Regions from separate parts of the Homo sapiens genome. Here region 1 is linked to region 2. The links come from fine-mapping of genetic effects on plasma protein levels. A gene starts in region 2. The other region holds a variant in brackets. All regions are shown on one strand. Distances are between the middles of the regions. Region 1 overlaps WDR35 (WD repeat domain 35). Region 2 holds the start of MATN3 (matrilin 3).

Evidence for each region. A credible set is the group of variants that fine-mapping cannot tell apart. PIP is the posterior inclusion probability: the model's chance that the variant is causal. Protein levels are from antibody-based Olink assays in UK Biobank. Linkage for the fine-mapping came from a reference panel and not from the study's own genotypes, which makes the PIPs less certain.
Region 1: its variant is the best candidate, but not a certain one, in a credible set for the plasma level of the MATN3 protein (UK Biobank, PIP 0.58).

Annotation. Positions count from the first base shown.
Region 1 is chr2:19,938,430-19,946,251 of GRCh38, reverse strand. WDR35 (WD repeat domain 35) reads left to right here. Exons shown (of 27, transcript NM_020779.4): 16 at 256-466; 17 at 4,413-4,493. Among named protein-coding and RNA genes, the nearest start is that of TTC32, 40 kb to the right of the region's middle. The variant C/A (reference allele first, on the strand shown) is at 5,190.
Region 2 is chr2:20,007,812-20,016,341 of GRCh38, reverse strand. MATN3 (matrilin 3) reads left to right here and starts at 3,674. Exons shown (of 8, transcript NM_002381.5): 1 at 3,674-3,933. The coding sequence starts at 3,711. RefSeq lists an enhancer at 3,958-4,570.

The sequences.
Region 1 (7,822 bases), 70 kb after region 2:
TAAAAGCATTGAGACTATTTTATATTTCATACCAATTGGTTTTGTCTCTGGATACATTTTCCTCAGAAGAGAGCAAAATAGAGAGTAGTCCATATCTTGTATCAAATTTATTTAACAAAATTTTAAGCCATTTCTACTGTATTCCAGGTTTCTGATAATCTGATTTTGAAGAAGAATGGCTATAGGTAATTATTCTCATGATTGCTGATAGTAATTTTATAGTTTTTTCCTTTTCTCTAATTGCATTGTTTTTAGCCGTCTTGCTATCATAGACATCTCAGGAGTTCTGACTTTCTTTGACTTGGATGCTCGAGTAACGGACAGTACGGGACAGCAAGTAGTTGGAGAGTTGTTAAAATTGGAACGAAGAGATGTCTGGGATATGAAGTGGGCCAAAGATAATCCTGATTTGTTTGCAATGATGGAGAAGACAAGAATGTATGTTTTCAGAAACTTGGATCCTGAGGTAAAAACAAGAAATGAGTGTTAACAGTCTATAAATAATGAGCCAAATATAAAAACCTGGATGATTCCCCTTTGTTTCTTTAAGAAGTTTGTTGAATAGCAGTGCCAACACGGCTGCATGAATTTCTGAAAATAAATAGGAACATTTCTGTGGATTTTAAAAATATTTGGTCTTAGGTGAGAAAATACTTATCTATTAAATATTCTCTACTTTCTCTGAAAGGTACTTCCTAGGCATTTATTTATCTGTTCTTTTTAAAAGGTGGAGCCATGGTCACTAGTCTTTTTTTCCCTTGTCAAACTTAAGAAAACAAAATCAGTAGCCTTATTTACCAGAATTTCTGAAAAGAACCTAATAAAAAAATATAGTTTTCAAATTTCCTTGTCCATTCATTCTTTTCTGTCTCTTTATTCACTTAATTCTGTGCTTACTTTGTCTTATTTATATTTACATTTACCATATCGTTCACAAATCTGTGTTCTTTCTTAACCCAGATATTCTTACAAATATGCAAGTGCAGGCAGGGATTAATCTCTCTTTTGGGTATGAGGAAGTCCCCTTTGTTCTCATTTTTAAGGTTACATTTTGATTTTCTGCTTGTGGCTCACATCAGCTAATTTCTATGCTCTGGATTTTCCTGTCACTTAGTCTACTCTGGCCAACTCTCAGCTGTTGTATTTAGGAAATACAAAATAATCCGAGTGGTAACCTAATCAAAACATCATTAAGAAGATAAATCTTTTAAATGACTTTTGAATTAGTAATGGATTTTCAATTTGGAATTTTCTGTACTTCTGCTGCACTCTACTCTTGTAAATAATAAGGAATAAGTTAATAAATGCTTTATATCATTAATTTCCATTTGTTTGCATGTATAGCTTCCTTCTTGGGAAGAAATTGCATGCTTGGGCCCCTGAGCTGCCAAAGGGTTTCTGGAGTAATTTATTTAGTGGTAAACTGTTTGCCCCTTTAATATCCTAAATTATTTTCACATTTCCCCATTTGAGCCCTACTCAGGAATTTTGGATGTAAAATGCCCTGATGTAAAGTGCTCTCAAAGGCTCTGTTAAAGCTTTTGCAAGTCTTAGGATCTTTGTGATTCTTCGACCCTGAGAAATAGTTCAAAGGAAAGGCATTCAGATTCAGGGCTGCTGCATTTGACCTGTAAGCATGGGCTTCTTTCAAGGGTCCAAGGGAAATTTAATCCTTGCCACAAAACAATTGTGGGAATTTGACAGGTAATCCACAGGATAACCTTGAGGATGGGAGTAGAATACTTTTTGAATGTTAGAGTCTTTTTCTATCCTTAGCCCTGCTCATACTAAATCACAAATCATATGCCTGGAGAAGGGAGAATGTTTGTTGTATCTGGCTGCTCATAATGTGTCTATAGCACACATGGTCAGTCTGGTACCAAGTGAAATCTTTGCCTGGTGGAAAGAGTTTCTTAAGTAGTTTTAACAGAACAGCCTTTTAAAAACATACTGTTTTTTAATTTGAATTTGTTTTCTGGTTTGGCATGTAGTTCGATTTCTGTTAGATTTAGAGCTAGATGGATTTCTTAAAACCTTCCCACTGTCTGGATTTCTTTATAAATGATGCTGTTCTGTTCTTTTCATTCACAAGGACACTGGCTTACTGTGGTCGCAGCTGGTTTAGCTACTCTGCTCATTTGCTTTTCTAGCTGCTTATTGATCATGTAAGAACATGATCTCTTCAAAGCAGGGAAGATCTGTTTTACATACTATTATATTTAATAGTATGTTCCTTAAGGACATAATATTCTATATTATTATTTAGGAGATAAGTTATTGTTTGACAGCTAATAACAATATATTTTTATCCATTTGAGTGTTGTTAAGAATTCTAGATTCATACCTTTATCTAAGCTGTAAATCTTCAGATTATTTGAGAGAAAAAGATGCCATCTGTGTGCAAAGTTTTAATTCACTGATAAAGCACATTTTCTTTGAGAATTAGGAGATGAATATTTAATGTTGATATTCCCTGCTTGATCATTTTCATCTCCAGTGACCCTCTGAAGGTACTGATTGCGCTGTTTTGTTCTTTTTCTTGGCTCTTCCTTCTCATTGGCACTACAATTTCATTTCATGTTTCTTTCATATCTCATAATTTCATCAATCAGACTCATTTTTGTACATTTGCTTCTTTTTCAAACAAGGGGCTCCCAAACTTTTGAATATATGCTCTTATATATACATATTTATTTAGAAATTATTTACATGACCTACCATATTAATATATTATGAATCAAAATAGAAATTTTAAAAGAATGAGAAAAATAAATTATACTGGATGACATAACTTTATTTTTTTAAGTCATGCTAATTGCTATGGTTCATGCTAATGCTACATTAGCTAGTATATCAGCATAATGCACATTTTAGAGCAAGGTTTTGTTAACTTAGTTGATAAAAGTCTCATGTGTCAAATACTCTACTTGATAACTTTGACCTTTTAGCTGACTTTTGGTCAGACCTGATAGGATTGTCATTGTTTTCACGTTGTAATGTGACTGATACAAGAATCTGTGCTAGGAGTAAGAGAGGTGTCAGTTCTGCCTTTTCTTGTTTGCTTGTGCTTGCATTATTAATATTACTTTTAATTTACAAGTTCTTTGCAAGAAGCTTTTTAAGCCATTTGTCCAGTTTGTGAGAGTTAGCTAAAATTAGGTAATACAATCCCTCAATTCACTTAGTTAGGTATATGCAAACCTCAGTATATCACAATATGCTAAAATTGTAGGACAAATAAGGGTACTTCAGGACACTCATTATATGGCACATATTATGAGGCCTTCTGACTTGTGTGCTGGATAAGGGTGCCAATATTTTGTTTGGTGTAGTATAGATTATTAAAGCTTTGGTTACTTTTTTGATAAAAAGAATTATCTTGCATACTGGTTAGGTGAGACCCTGCTGGTCTGAAACTTCATATTTAAATGAAGTGTGTGGATAGATAGCTAATGAATTTTGGAAACTAAAGAAAATTGGTTAATTCCAGCAGAAGTTGAATTTTTAAAATCTGAATTACATAAATGTATTTACTTATGCATTAATAATCAGATTATTTTTCAAACTTTTATTTTTTGATCTCTCTTTCCATCTTTCTCCCTTTCTCTTTGGTAGTATTTTTTTTTTCATGGATCAACTTTTGTGAGTTTATCTTTTGATTATCTTGTTTTGTTGCACTGTCTTGCCAAAAATAAAAAAAAAATTTCTAATGATAAACATGTTTATACAAGGATCTAGGGCAGCTACTTTATAATATGCATATCCTATTCTTTATTTCAACAAGCCTGTATAACACTAAGATAAGAGACAGACATATAACAGTCTCATGCACTTACATATTGGCAAATAAATCTTCTTAAGAGTAGGAGATATATCAGGAATGCACTCTGGCTCATGTTACAGAGGAGAGACTGTTCAGTGTGGTATGGGATTTCTTTGATAGATGGGCTTACATACAAATATAGTGTTTATCAGCTTTATGAAGAATTAACTTTAATATTGAATTGCATGAATTAGAATTTTCAAGCTATATGACTTTTTATTAATTGAGAAAATTGGACTGAATATTACATGCTATTAGGGAATTAACATTAATTATGTAAGGTGTGATCATAGTAATGTGGCCATGTAAGAGAAAATTCTTATGTTTTAAAGATATGTACTGCAGTATTTAGGGATAAAATATCATGATGTCCGTAATTTACTGTATTTACTTTACAATACTTCAGCCAAGAAGTTAAAGGAAGCATATTTACCATAATGCTAATTATTTAGGTTATGGGTATATGGGTGTTAATGACATTCTCTCTTTTGTTTACCTGAAAACTCTGATAATAAAATTTAAAAGCATGATTTGTTAAAAGAGAGGAAATTTTGCATAATGAAACATAACTTTTTTTTTGTCTTTAAAGGAACCCATTCAGACCTCTGGATATATTTGTAATTTTGAGGATTTAGAAATTAAATCTGTTCTTTTGGATGAGATATTAAAGGTAATTCCTAAAAAGTTACATTTCTGTTGCTAGCTTGACAGGGGATTATTTCTGGACCAGGCGGTGTAGTATCCTGGTTAGCAGTGTGGACCCAGGAGTCAGATATATCTCAGGCCCAGCCCTGCTCTCTTATTGTTCAGCCTTTAGGTGGGTGCCACCATCTTTTTGAGCTTCACTTTACTTTCCTGTAAAATGATGATAAAAATGTATAAGTCTCAGTTATTGCCTTTATAAAATACAGATAATAATACTACTTATAGGATTGTTATTATATAAGATAATGTGTGAAAAGCAATTAGCACAATGCTACGGCCAAGTGAGAGCTAAAAAAAATGAGTGCTAATTGTTGTCATTGTTTTTGTAGTAATAACGAGGTACTGAAGAAATATTTAAGAGTTTAGCCTTTTTCTAGTTCTAAGATACTTGAGTAACTTTTTTTTAGAGATCTATCTTTCCATTTTTTCCAGGTTTTGTAAAATAATCCTTTTTTCTCTTTTTAAATTCAAGACATGATTTTGAACCCCTGCATTGGCCTACATTGACCATCCTTTGAGAATTTTTTTTCTCTAAGAATATACTGAGAGAAGTTTTACCTTCATTTTAGCCAAAGCATTAACTTTTTCTATGTAATATATATATAGTTTTTGAATTGAGATAGTAGATTTAAAATTTCCAGAAGTTAGTGGCAATTTGGAA[C/A]AGGTTTGGGTTTGATATGTAAATCATATTTGGGTTTGATATGTAAATTATGGCTATTTTATTGTGAGCCAGTTTCATTTTCTATATCATAACCACCATGCAGCAATGGGATGGGCCCCCACCCAAAATTTGGTTTGGATGTAAAGATTGATGATACCATAGGGACACCAGGAATGTATCTTCCATAATGAAACTTTTAGGGGAGAGAAGGGCAGGCTTCCCAAGCTGTCAGAAATGGCTGGACAGCACAGGGAAAGGAGACTGGCTTGAGGGTGTTTTTGTTGTTGTTTTGTTGTTTAGTAGTTAGGGAGTGGGTCTGGGGTGAGGCTTTTAATGGATAGGGGCTTATGTGGTTTGAAACTCACTGGTGCCCCAAAGGAAGAAGCATCTGGGCTTTCTCATTAGCTTGCCCCATGTGAGGCAGAGGGGAAGAGGGAGAGGTGAGGTTTAAAAGCTGTCAGCAGCCAACCATCAAAAATGGAGTCTGGGCTGTTATTACCTAGGATTATGTAACCTCCAGATTTGACTATCTGACTCTTCTGTATATGGATAGCACTTTTCTTGTCCTTGTTTAAGGTATATGACTTGTAAAACTAATGAACTTATTTCATTGCCCGTTTAACTTGAATACAGTACCACCAGATAATATTTTTTCCTTTTCCACACGTGTGAAGAAAGATATCTATTGTTTTTTTTTCAGCAGGGTTTCTCTCTGTTGCCCAGGCTGGAGTGCAGTGGTGCCATCATGGCTCACTGTAGCCTCTGCCCCCCAGGCTCAAGTGATCCTCCCATCTCAGCCTCCTGAGTAGCTGGGGTCCCAGGCACAGGCCGCCATGCTTGGCTAATTTTTTGTGTTTTTTTTTTTTTTTTTTTGTAGAGATGGGGTTTGCCATGTTGGTCAAGGGTGGTCTTGAACTCCTGGGCTCAAGTGAAACTCTCATTTTGCCCTCCCAAAATGTTAGGATTACAGGCGTGAGCCACCATGCCCAGCCAGAAGATGTCTTTCTGCTTGTCTTCTTTCCCAAGAGATTTAGGGAAAGAAGACATTATTTATTTATTTCTTTTTTTTTTATTTTGAATATGTGGTTCTTCCAGGGCCCTTTAAAAAGACAGTCATAAGTGGGTAGAATCAAACTAAGGTGACTGAAATATTTTGTCTGCTTTTATATATTTAATGGTTTGATAAAGAGTGAGCTTCTTGAATCCCTAACATTTAGCAAGGATCTGATACAGAGTTGGTTTTCAGAAAGTGTTGGTTAAATTGATTTTTAAAAATGAATACTTTACTGCTTTTAAACAAATGGCAGAATTATATAGAATTCAAGCAAAACAGAAAAGTACTGAAACAAGTTAAAAAAAAACCCTAAATCCCACAACTCAGATATTTTAGTCACTACCGTTAAACATCAGAACATCATTCCTTACAGCTGCAAGTTATATATGGAAATATGGATTTGATAGATTTAGATAGATGAACAGAAGTAATTTTATAAAAATGACATCATTGTACAATCTACTTTTTTAGTGTTAATTTAATTAGATAACCTGAAAGTGAGTTTAAAGGAATTCTAGACTTTTAGATAATATTTTTCCACTGCAAAGAATACCATTTTCCTGGGTTGAGAAGAAAAATTATGAAAAACCAGGTAGTTATTAGTTTAAATTATATTTTAATTTTTAATAGTATTGTCTTTCTACTCTAAAAGATAACATTCTTACATTTTCTTCTTTTTCTCCTTTTGTAGATATATTATTTTTACATTGTCAAGATTTAGAACATTTAAATTTCGTCTTGTAATCCTAATTTCCAGTTGTTTAGTCTTAATAGTTAAATGAATTCAAAGCTATTAGCCAGGCTTTTTACTACATTTTCTCCTTACGTAAGTTCTTAATTTTGATTAATCTTTTAGTTGGCTGGATTTCATTGTTAGTAGTGTTTTTCAAGAAAGGCTCATAATTTCCGATTGCCTTAAGCTCTAGAATGTGTGAAAATGCCTGTGGTGTTGTTGCTGTAATTGATGATTATATTGAATTTTGTGAAGTTTTTTAGATAAAGAAGGCTCTCAGTGGTAAAATGATTTACCTAAAGTTCATCTATTCATTAATTCAGCAACTATTAATTAACAGCCAATAAGACACAGTTCTTGGCCTCAGGTAGAGGAGTTGAGGAGATGGATAAGTAATTCAGTTGCCAGAAAAGAGTTAGGGGTGCTGTGATTCAGTCAGGATGGTACACCTGTTCAAAATTCTGAAGCAGGAGAGCATTAGGTCAGTTCTGAGATGATGAATATTGAATACCGTAAATAGTACAGCTAGGCATTGTGCTGAATCTTTGAGACATGTTATCTCATTTAAGGTGAAAAACCAATCTGAGCAGAGGGAAACAGGGATGCATAACTGTGAGGGACCCCTTCTGCCATTTTCCTCTGTCCCCTTTTCCTCATAGGCCGCCTGATTGCCTCAGAGGTACTTACTTGTGGGTTTTGGTGTTTTCCAGATAACTCAAAAGACCCAAACGTGAAGATTTCTCTTCCTTATTTTGCTCACAATATGATGCCGTTTTTTTTCTTGTTTTGTTTTGTTCTGGTTTTTAATATAAAAAAGAAACACATACTCTAACGGCAAATATTTGA
Region 2 (8,530 bases):
ATAATTCTCCCAAGATGTTGAATTTATTGCTTGTAAGAAGTAATGCAAAGTTGAAAGTAATCCTAACATTTGGTCGGTTTCTTTTTTCTTTTCAAAGTTTAGACCAAGTGCATGTATTACCTACTTTAAAAATAATAAAATTCTAAAAACAATGTAAAGTGTATATATAAATCTTTGTTGTATTTCTTAGATTTTTGAATAGTTCAAAAAACCTCTGTTTGGCTTTTTTATGACCTAAGTCTTTAGGTTATCAAAAAGTTATTCTAGTCTTTATCTTGACAAAGTAGTATAAGATAATATGCAGTGGTAGAGAAATATAGCTTTTGCAATATTCCCAAGTAAACACCTGAAAGCAAAGTTACCACCTGGTCCAGCAGCCAGTTGAGTTGGTGACATGCAAGAAGGCCCTACAGCCACCTGAATTCCTCTGTCAGAAGAGCTACCTTTGTTTTATTTGACAATCTTTGGACATCAGATGTAAGACAACCGCCCTGGAGTGTGAACTCTGGAGATACAAACTTATCAGACAATTTCTATTTCATTCAAGATGGCATGACTTTCATACACCAGCATCTGAAATTGTCTGAGATACTGACAACGAATGTGTAGGGACATTCACCAGGGAGCTGAGATTTTTATTTTGAGCTCTTTAAAACAGTGCCCCCCAGTGGTATGCAATAGAAAAAAAAAATCACAAGATTAATATATCCACATTGTTGGTGCAAACAGAACCCATTCCTGCTAGAATGAGCTGAAAAAGAGGCTAAGCATGGTGGCTCACATGTATAATCCTAGCACTTTGGCAAGCTGAGGTGGGAGGATCACTTGAGCCCAGGAGTTCAAGATCAGCCTGGGCAACATAATTAGACCCTGTCTCTATAAAGAATAAAAAAAAATTAGTTGGGCGTGGTGGTGCACACCTGTGGTCCCAGCAACTCGGGAGGCTGAGGCAGGAGGATTGCTTGAACCTGGAGGATTGCTTGAGCCCAGAAAGTTGAGGTTGCAGTGAGCTCTGATGACACCATTGCACTCCAGCCTGGGTGACAGAATGAGACCCTGTTTATAATAATAATAATAAAGAAACAGAAAAAGTATATATTAAGGGTATTATTTGTCCCACTACTAGCTCAAAGTACAAATGGAAAAGCCAACCATTCCTCAAGAAACATCACTCCCCAGTTGAAGTGGAATTCCAAATGTTATAATCAATATGTGTTGACTACGAATGTGAATAGTGCCCCTGTGAACTTGTGCAATGTACACCTACACCATCCATATGTAGCCCTGGATATTAAGTGGTTCAAATAATTTCTGGAAAGGTTCAAGAATCAAGCTTGGAAGCCACACAGTCATCAACCATTCCCAAAATTATACTGCAGGTTTGCTATATGGGAGACCTAGAGTCACTGCTGCTTGGCATAGACACCACATATGATCGATGAAGACTGGGCCACTTATGTACATCCTAGCTGCAAGAGATGCTGGGGAAGCAAGTTCTTGGAGTCAACTTGGGGAGGTGCTGACTCATGAAGTTGGAAATCCCTAAATTTAGGAAGGTATTTGTGATGGTGAATTTTAATGTGTCATCTTGACTGGGCTAATGGATGCCCAGATAGCTATTAAATATTATTTCTGGGTGTGTCTGTGAGGATGTTTCTGGAAGAGATTAGCATTTGAATCGGTAGACTGAGCAAAGAAGATCACCTTCATCTATGTGAGTGGAGTGGGCATCATCCAATCTGTTGAGGGCTTGAATGGAGCAAAAAGACAGTGGAAGGCAAATGTGTTCTCTGCTGGAGCTGGGCCAACCAGCTTCTCCTGTCCTTGGACATCAGCATTCCTGGTTCTTGGGTCTCTGGACTCAGATTGGGCCTTATGTCATTGGCTCTCCTGCTCTTGGGCCTTCAGGCTTGGACTGGATTACACCACTGGCTTTCCTGGGCCCCCAGCTTGCAGACAGCAGACTGTGGGACTTCTCAGCCTTCATAATCGCATGAACCAATCCCTCATAATCTCAATTACTCCCCCCACCCTCTCTCTATATGTATGTGTATATAAAATTTATTGGTTTTGTTTCTCTCAAGAACCCTGACTAATGTAGGGTTCAAAGGCTTTGGGGATCATTCTAAAAGCAAGACGAAAGACAAATGTCCACCAGAGCTTGCAAATACTGTATTTATCAATCCCTCCTCTTCTTGGCATAGTTTCTTTCAAACTTCTTAGTGTCCTCTTCCCATTATTACAAACTTCTCGTTTCTTCTAAGGTCCTTCTAAATTGGTGAGTTCTCAGTGGGAGTTGAGTGACCTTTTCCCTCAGTGTGACTATCACTGCCCAATGTCATTGATACATTATACAACTCCCCATCCCCACTTCCCCTCAGCTCCTGTTAACCACCATTCTTTCTGTCTCTATGAATTTGACTACTCTAGATTCCCCATGTAAATGGAATCATACAGTATTTGTCTTTTTGTGACTAGCTTATTTCACTTAACATAATACTCTCAAGGTTCATCCATTTTGTAGCATCTGCCAAAATTTCCTCCCTTTTAAGGCTGAACAGTATTCCATTGTACGTAGATACTGCATTTTGCTTTTCCATTCACACAAAGAGAGACACTTGGGTTGTTTCCGCCTCTTGGCTATTGTGTATAATGCTGCTACCAGCATGGGGTACAAATATGAGAAGTGAGGTTTAGGATCGTGTGAGGAGGATCACTTGTAGAGGGAAAATAGTGAAATAGGACGACCAGATAGGCTCTGTTGGAACTCGCGCCCATTGTTTTAAGACGCAGCTCAAATGTCACCTGGTTTTAGAAGTCTTCCTGGTCTCCGCAGGCAGTCAGTATCTCTTTCCTAAATCCACCACATTCCCGTAGACAGACACCACATTTATGCAAATCTCCTTCTCACAGACAGTGAGTTCCATGGGGGTCCCCTGGCAGCCTCCAGCCCTGTACCATGCTAACTCTTCCGGAGAGGAAATGGGGCCTCGGGAGAGCCTTTGAAGCCTGTGTTGGTACAGGCTGTCCTTCCAGCTAACGGGGCTCTCTGGGGAATGTATGTTTGACTTTCTATTCCCGGTAATATAAGTTCAAATGTTTGTGGATATTTGAAGCTCGGATGAAAGCGTTTCTATTCATGCCCCTAGAATCTGTGAGGCCTTTTCTTTCTTTTTTTTTTTTTAAACAAGAGCCCACAGCAAAACTTGGGTTACTTGGCTGAGGAAAGGAATGTAGAGCTAGGAGCAGGGTTTCATCTTCAGCCCCAGTCGGGCAAACCAGTGGCAGAAGGGAAAGCAGAGCCCAGGGGTCCCCATCCCGTACCTGGGGCGCAGGCCCCGCTGGGGTGGGAGGGAGAGTGGAGGGCCGGGCAGGCTGCAGCCGCGGATGGCTGCCCCCCCTGCCCCGGTGTTACTGGGAGGACGGAGGTTGCGACAGCAGCCGAGCCCACCCAGTTGCAGCCGGCTCGGGGCTTAGGGCAGGGGCGGGAGGTGACCACCGCGCCGCTGGCCGCCTCGCCCAGACATTCCGTTTCTGCCGCTGGAATGCGCGGACAAGGCTCCTTGTTGGCCTTGGGCGGGGTTCGCCGGGCCGGCCTGGCGCTCGAGGCCCCGGGGCGGGGCGGGGCCCGAGGCCGCGGGACCTTTAAATCCGAGCCTCGCGTGGGCTCCTGGCCCCCGACGGACACCACCAGGCCCACGGAGCCCACCATGCCGCGCCCGGCCCCCGCGCGCCGCCTCCCGGGACTCCTCCTGCTGCTCTGGCCGCTGCTGCTGCTGCCCTCCGCCGCCCCCGACCCCGTGGCCCGCCCGGGCTTCCGGAGGCTGGAGACCCGAGGTCCCGGGGGCAGCCCTGGACGCCGCCCCTCTCCTGCGGCTCCCGACGGCGCGCCCGCTTCCGGGACCAGCGAGCCTGGCCGCGCCCGCGGTGCAGGTACAGGCGGGCGGCGGGAGGGACGCGTGAGCATCGAACGAGGAGAAGCCCAGGGCATCCACCAAGCGCGCTTCATCCCGGCCTCAGGCCGACCGTGGTGCGGGGGAAAGAGGCCCCTCCCGGATGAATCCTGTGGGGGAAACTGAGGTCCAGAGAAGGGGAGGGAGATGCCCAATATCACTCATGTGTCCAGGCTAGAGATGTGGGTCTCCTGAAGCTCTCACTCCCCTGTGATTCGGCCAGGAGCACAGGGCAGCTGGGGAGCGCAGGGGCTGCTGCCCAGCGGCTGCTGCTAAGCTCCGTCCCAGTCCTGACCTCTCCATTCAGTGAGCAAACCCTTCCTGAGACTCTGCTGTTAGTTCTCTTGGAATCTCTCCATCTCCATCCAATATCAGGGCGTGATCTTTCCTCCCCTCCCACAGTCCTCAGGCTGCCTCAGACTGGAAGGTAAGGGATGCGGGTGTGAGACCAGGAGGAGATCCGAGGAGCCGTAGGATACCCCAGGATCAAGACACTCTGGGTCTTTGGCGAACAATTCTATTTCTCTTTTTGGTCAGCAATTGATTCCTGAAGCAGAGCAAAGCTCATAGTGCAGCGAAGCGGGCAGGTCGTCTGACACAGCCCCTGACAGCACATGAAGGGAAACTGAGGCATATCAAGTTGAAGGGACTCTGTGAATCAGTATCAGAGGCCACAATAAAATTCAGGGCTCCGAAATCCCAAGCAAGGTCTCTTTCCACTGCCCCAGCCTACCAACCTCTTAATATGGTTTACATAAGATTGTATCTTCATTTCCAAAAAGCGCAGCTTCAGTCTTGCTAAAAAGAGTCTGTGCCAGGCCATTTCTGGGTATGCAGTCTCATTTGGCCAGCCACGCTGCATGCCTCAGGCTGATTTCAATTGTCTATCCCCTTCTGCATCTTTCTGGATAAGCTGAGAAGGAGCTCAAGGGACTCTTTCCTGACTCAAATACTCAGTCCCCGTATTTGAAGTGGCAGATTTGAAATGGCAAAAGCATTGCTGCTAAGGCAGGAGGTACCGGGGTCCACAGGGCTAGATTCAGCTGGTGGCTGGTTGCTCCAGGCCGGGAATTGAGGGAAAGCCTTTCTTCTGGAAGTTAATCTTACTCTAGTCCTGACCTGCCTCCCTCTGGGATGGGACTGGAAGAGGAAGGAGAGATTCAGCACCAGGTGGCCATGTCCCCCTAAGCTTTACTGGTCTTTCATTACCTAGAGTCCGAACCTGATCATGAATGATAACCCATTAATAAATGCGAGATTCCACCCTGTTCCAAATTATCTCCTTTTAGCAACCAGAAATTGCTAAGCTTCGCTATGGATTTTTATTTCTAGCAGGACTGTAAGGACTCAGTGGTATTATGAGTATGGGAACATTTTAGGAGATTCAGATTCTTTCTTTGTTCTTGGGAATCAAATTGCTGCTATTTAGTAAATGGGAGTGAGATTCAAAAACAACTAATGATTGATGCGGAGTACCAGTCAGGAAGGAACCAGATGTTCACAGAATTTTCTGCCACCATGGTCAAGCCTCAGGTATTAGTTTTCTATGGCCACTGTAACAAATTACTGTGAATTTAGTGCCTTAAGACAACACACATTTATTACCTGAGAGTTCTGTGGGTCAGAAGTCTGACCCTGGTCTCACTGGGCTAAGATGAAGGTGTCGGCAGGGCTGTGTTCCTTTTGGGAGGCTCTAGGGGAGACTGCATTTCCCTTCCCTTTCCACCGCATGAAGGCTGCTGAGTTCCTTGGCTTATGGCCTTTTTCTTCCATTTTCAGAGCCAGCTAAAGCAGGTTGAGGCCTTCTCCCATTGAGTTACTCACATTTCTTTCATCTGCCTCCCTCTTCTACTTTATAATTACATTGACTCACTGAATAATCCAGGATAACCTCTTGTGTAGAGCTCTTTGACTTAATCACACCTGCAAAGTCTCTGCTCTTTGCCACGTAAAAGTAACATGTCTCTGGAATTAGGACGTGGACGTCTTTGGCGGGGGACATTATTCTGCATACCACACCCCGAATAGAGGATTCGGTGTGAATAACCAAGTGGAGAAGGAAAGAATCATGCACGTTTAGTTATAAGAACATAGCCATGATATTTATAAGGACACCATTTGGGTGCTGGTGAAAGCACTGTCAATTACAGAGTTCATATCTTCATGTTACCCCCACCTTTTCTTTTTCTAATTATACAAAAATACTTTGACCCATCTCCAGGAAAGATTTTCAACATAATTCTTCTTCCTAGCTCTAGATCTATGGGACTTTCCAGGAATGAAGTAAAATTCTGGAGGTTTTTTTTTTTTTTTTTTTTTTTAGTATTTGAAGAGATTTATTCTGAGACAAACATGAGTGACCATGGTCTGTGACACAGCCCTCAAGAGGTCCTGAGTACATGTGCTCAAGATGGTCAGGGTGCAGCTTGTTTTTATACAATTTAAGGAGGTATGAGACATCAATCAAATACATTTAAGAAATACATTGGTTTGGTCCTAAAAGGTGGGACAACTCAAAGCCGGTGGTGGTGAGGGGCTTCCAGGCTATAGGTAAGTTTAAATATTTTCTGGTTGATAATTGGTTGCATTTGCCTAAAGACCTGGGATCCATAGAAAGGAAATGTTCAGGTTAAGATAAAAGACTGTAAAGACCAATGTTCTTTTGAAGTCTTATAGTGGCTACCCTTAGAGACAATAGATGACAAATGTTTCCTATTCAGATCTTTTTAAAAAATTATTATTATTTTACTTTAAGTTCTGGGATACATGTGCAGAATGTGCAGGTTTGTTACATAGGGATACATGTGCGCTGGTGGTTTGCTGCACCCATCAACCCATCATCTAGGTTTTAAGCCCCACATAGATTAGGTATTTGTCCTAATGCTCTCCCTCCTCTTGCCCCCCACCCCCTGACAGGCGCTGGTGTGTGATGTTCCCCTCCCTATGTCCATGAGTTCTCATTGTTCAACTCCCACTTATGAGTGAGAACATGTGGTGTCTGGTTTTCTGTTCCTGTGTCAGTTTGCTGAGAATGACGGCTTCCAGCTTCATCCATGTCCCTGCAAAGGACATGGACTCATTCTTTTTTATGGCTGCTGGAGTTGTTTTTTTTTTTTTTAAAGAAAGAAAGAATTTTGATTCCTTTTTTTTTTTTTTGGCTTTTAGAGACTGGGTCTCATTCTATCATCCAGGCTGGAGTGCAGTGGTGTGATTGTGGCTCACTGCAGCCTTGACTCTCTAGCTTTAAGCGATCCTCCTGCCTCAGCCCCCTAAGCAGCTGGGACTACAGGTGCCTGCCACCATGCCTGGCTAATTTTTAAACTTTTTATAGAGATGAGGTCTCCCTATGTTGCCCAGGCTGGTCTAGAACTCCGGAGCTCAAGTGATCCTTCTCCCTCAGCCTCTCGAAGTGTTGGGATTACAGGCGTGAGCCACTGCGCCTGGGTTTAATTCCTTTTGACTTAACTAAATGCATGACATACAGCATATTTCAGGGCGGTGACTTAAAGTCAACAAGCAGGATGTTTACTGAATACATGAGAGAATGTTGATTTTTGTGGAGGAAAATGTTGCCTCAGAGAGAGGTAACTGGGATTCAGTAGCAAGCTCCCAGGGACTGGGAGTCAGGAAACCTGGAGTCCAATCCATGCTCTACCACTTTCTAGTTCTCACACCTCCTTGAACCTCAGGTTTCTCACCTGTAAAATGAATATAAAAACCACCTCTGCACCTCCAGCCTCACAGGTTGATGTGTTGGTACCTTGCGATTCCTAAAGTGTTACTGAAAGGAAGATTTTCTTTTTGTTAATTAAATACCTCCAAGCAGCAGGCTAAAAACAAGAAGATAATTTTCTGCTTTTAAAAGAAAACTAGACAGAGACATAAGGTAGGCTGTTCCAGGTAAGGCTTTAATTTTTTTCTATAAACTGCTTAGTCTAGGCATTAATTTTGAATCACCTTTTTTTCCTACTAAGTATTACCTTCCTAGAGTAGCATCAACTTCTGCCTCCTTATTAGGAAAGGAAAGAGCCTTGAGTGACACTTCATGCCCCAGGACCTCATTTCCATTTAGGGCTGCATGCGTGTGTTGGGTGAGAAGGGGGAATGACTTGAAAAAGAAGTTTAGGGCTGGGCACAGTGGCTCACACCTATAATCCCAGCACTCTGGGAGGCCAAGGTGGGAGGATCACCTGAGGTTGGGAGTTTGAGCCCAGCCTGGCCAACATAGTGAAACCCCGTCTCTATGAAAAATACAAAAATTAGCTGGGTGTGGTGGCGCACACCTGTAGTCCCAGCTACTCAGGAGGCTGAGGCAGGAGAACTGCTTGAACCCAGGAGGTGGTGGTTGCAGTGAGCCAAGATTGCACCACCGCACTCCAGCCTGGGTGACAGAATGAGACTCCGTCTCAAAAAAAAGAAAAAGAAGTTTAATAATTGGCTTTTTTTCTTGTCTCATCCTGACTTGTGGATTTGATTTTTGTATCGAGGAGAGAGGGTGTGCAAACAGGGGTTGGGGGAAACAGGAAAGAACAGGAAAGAATAGATGAACACTAAAATGTACTGTGATACTAAACTGT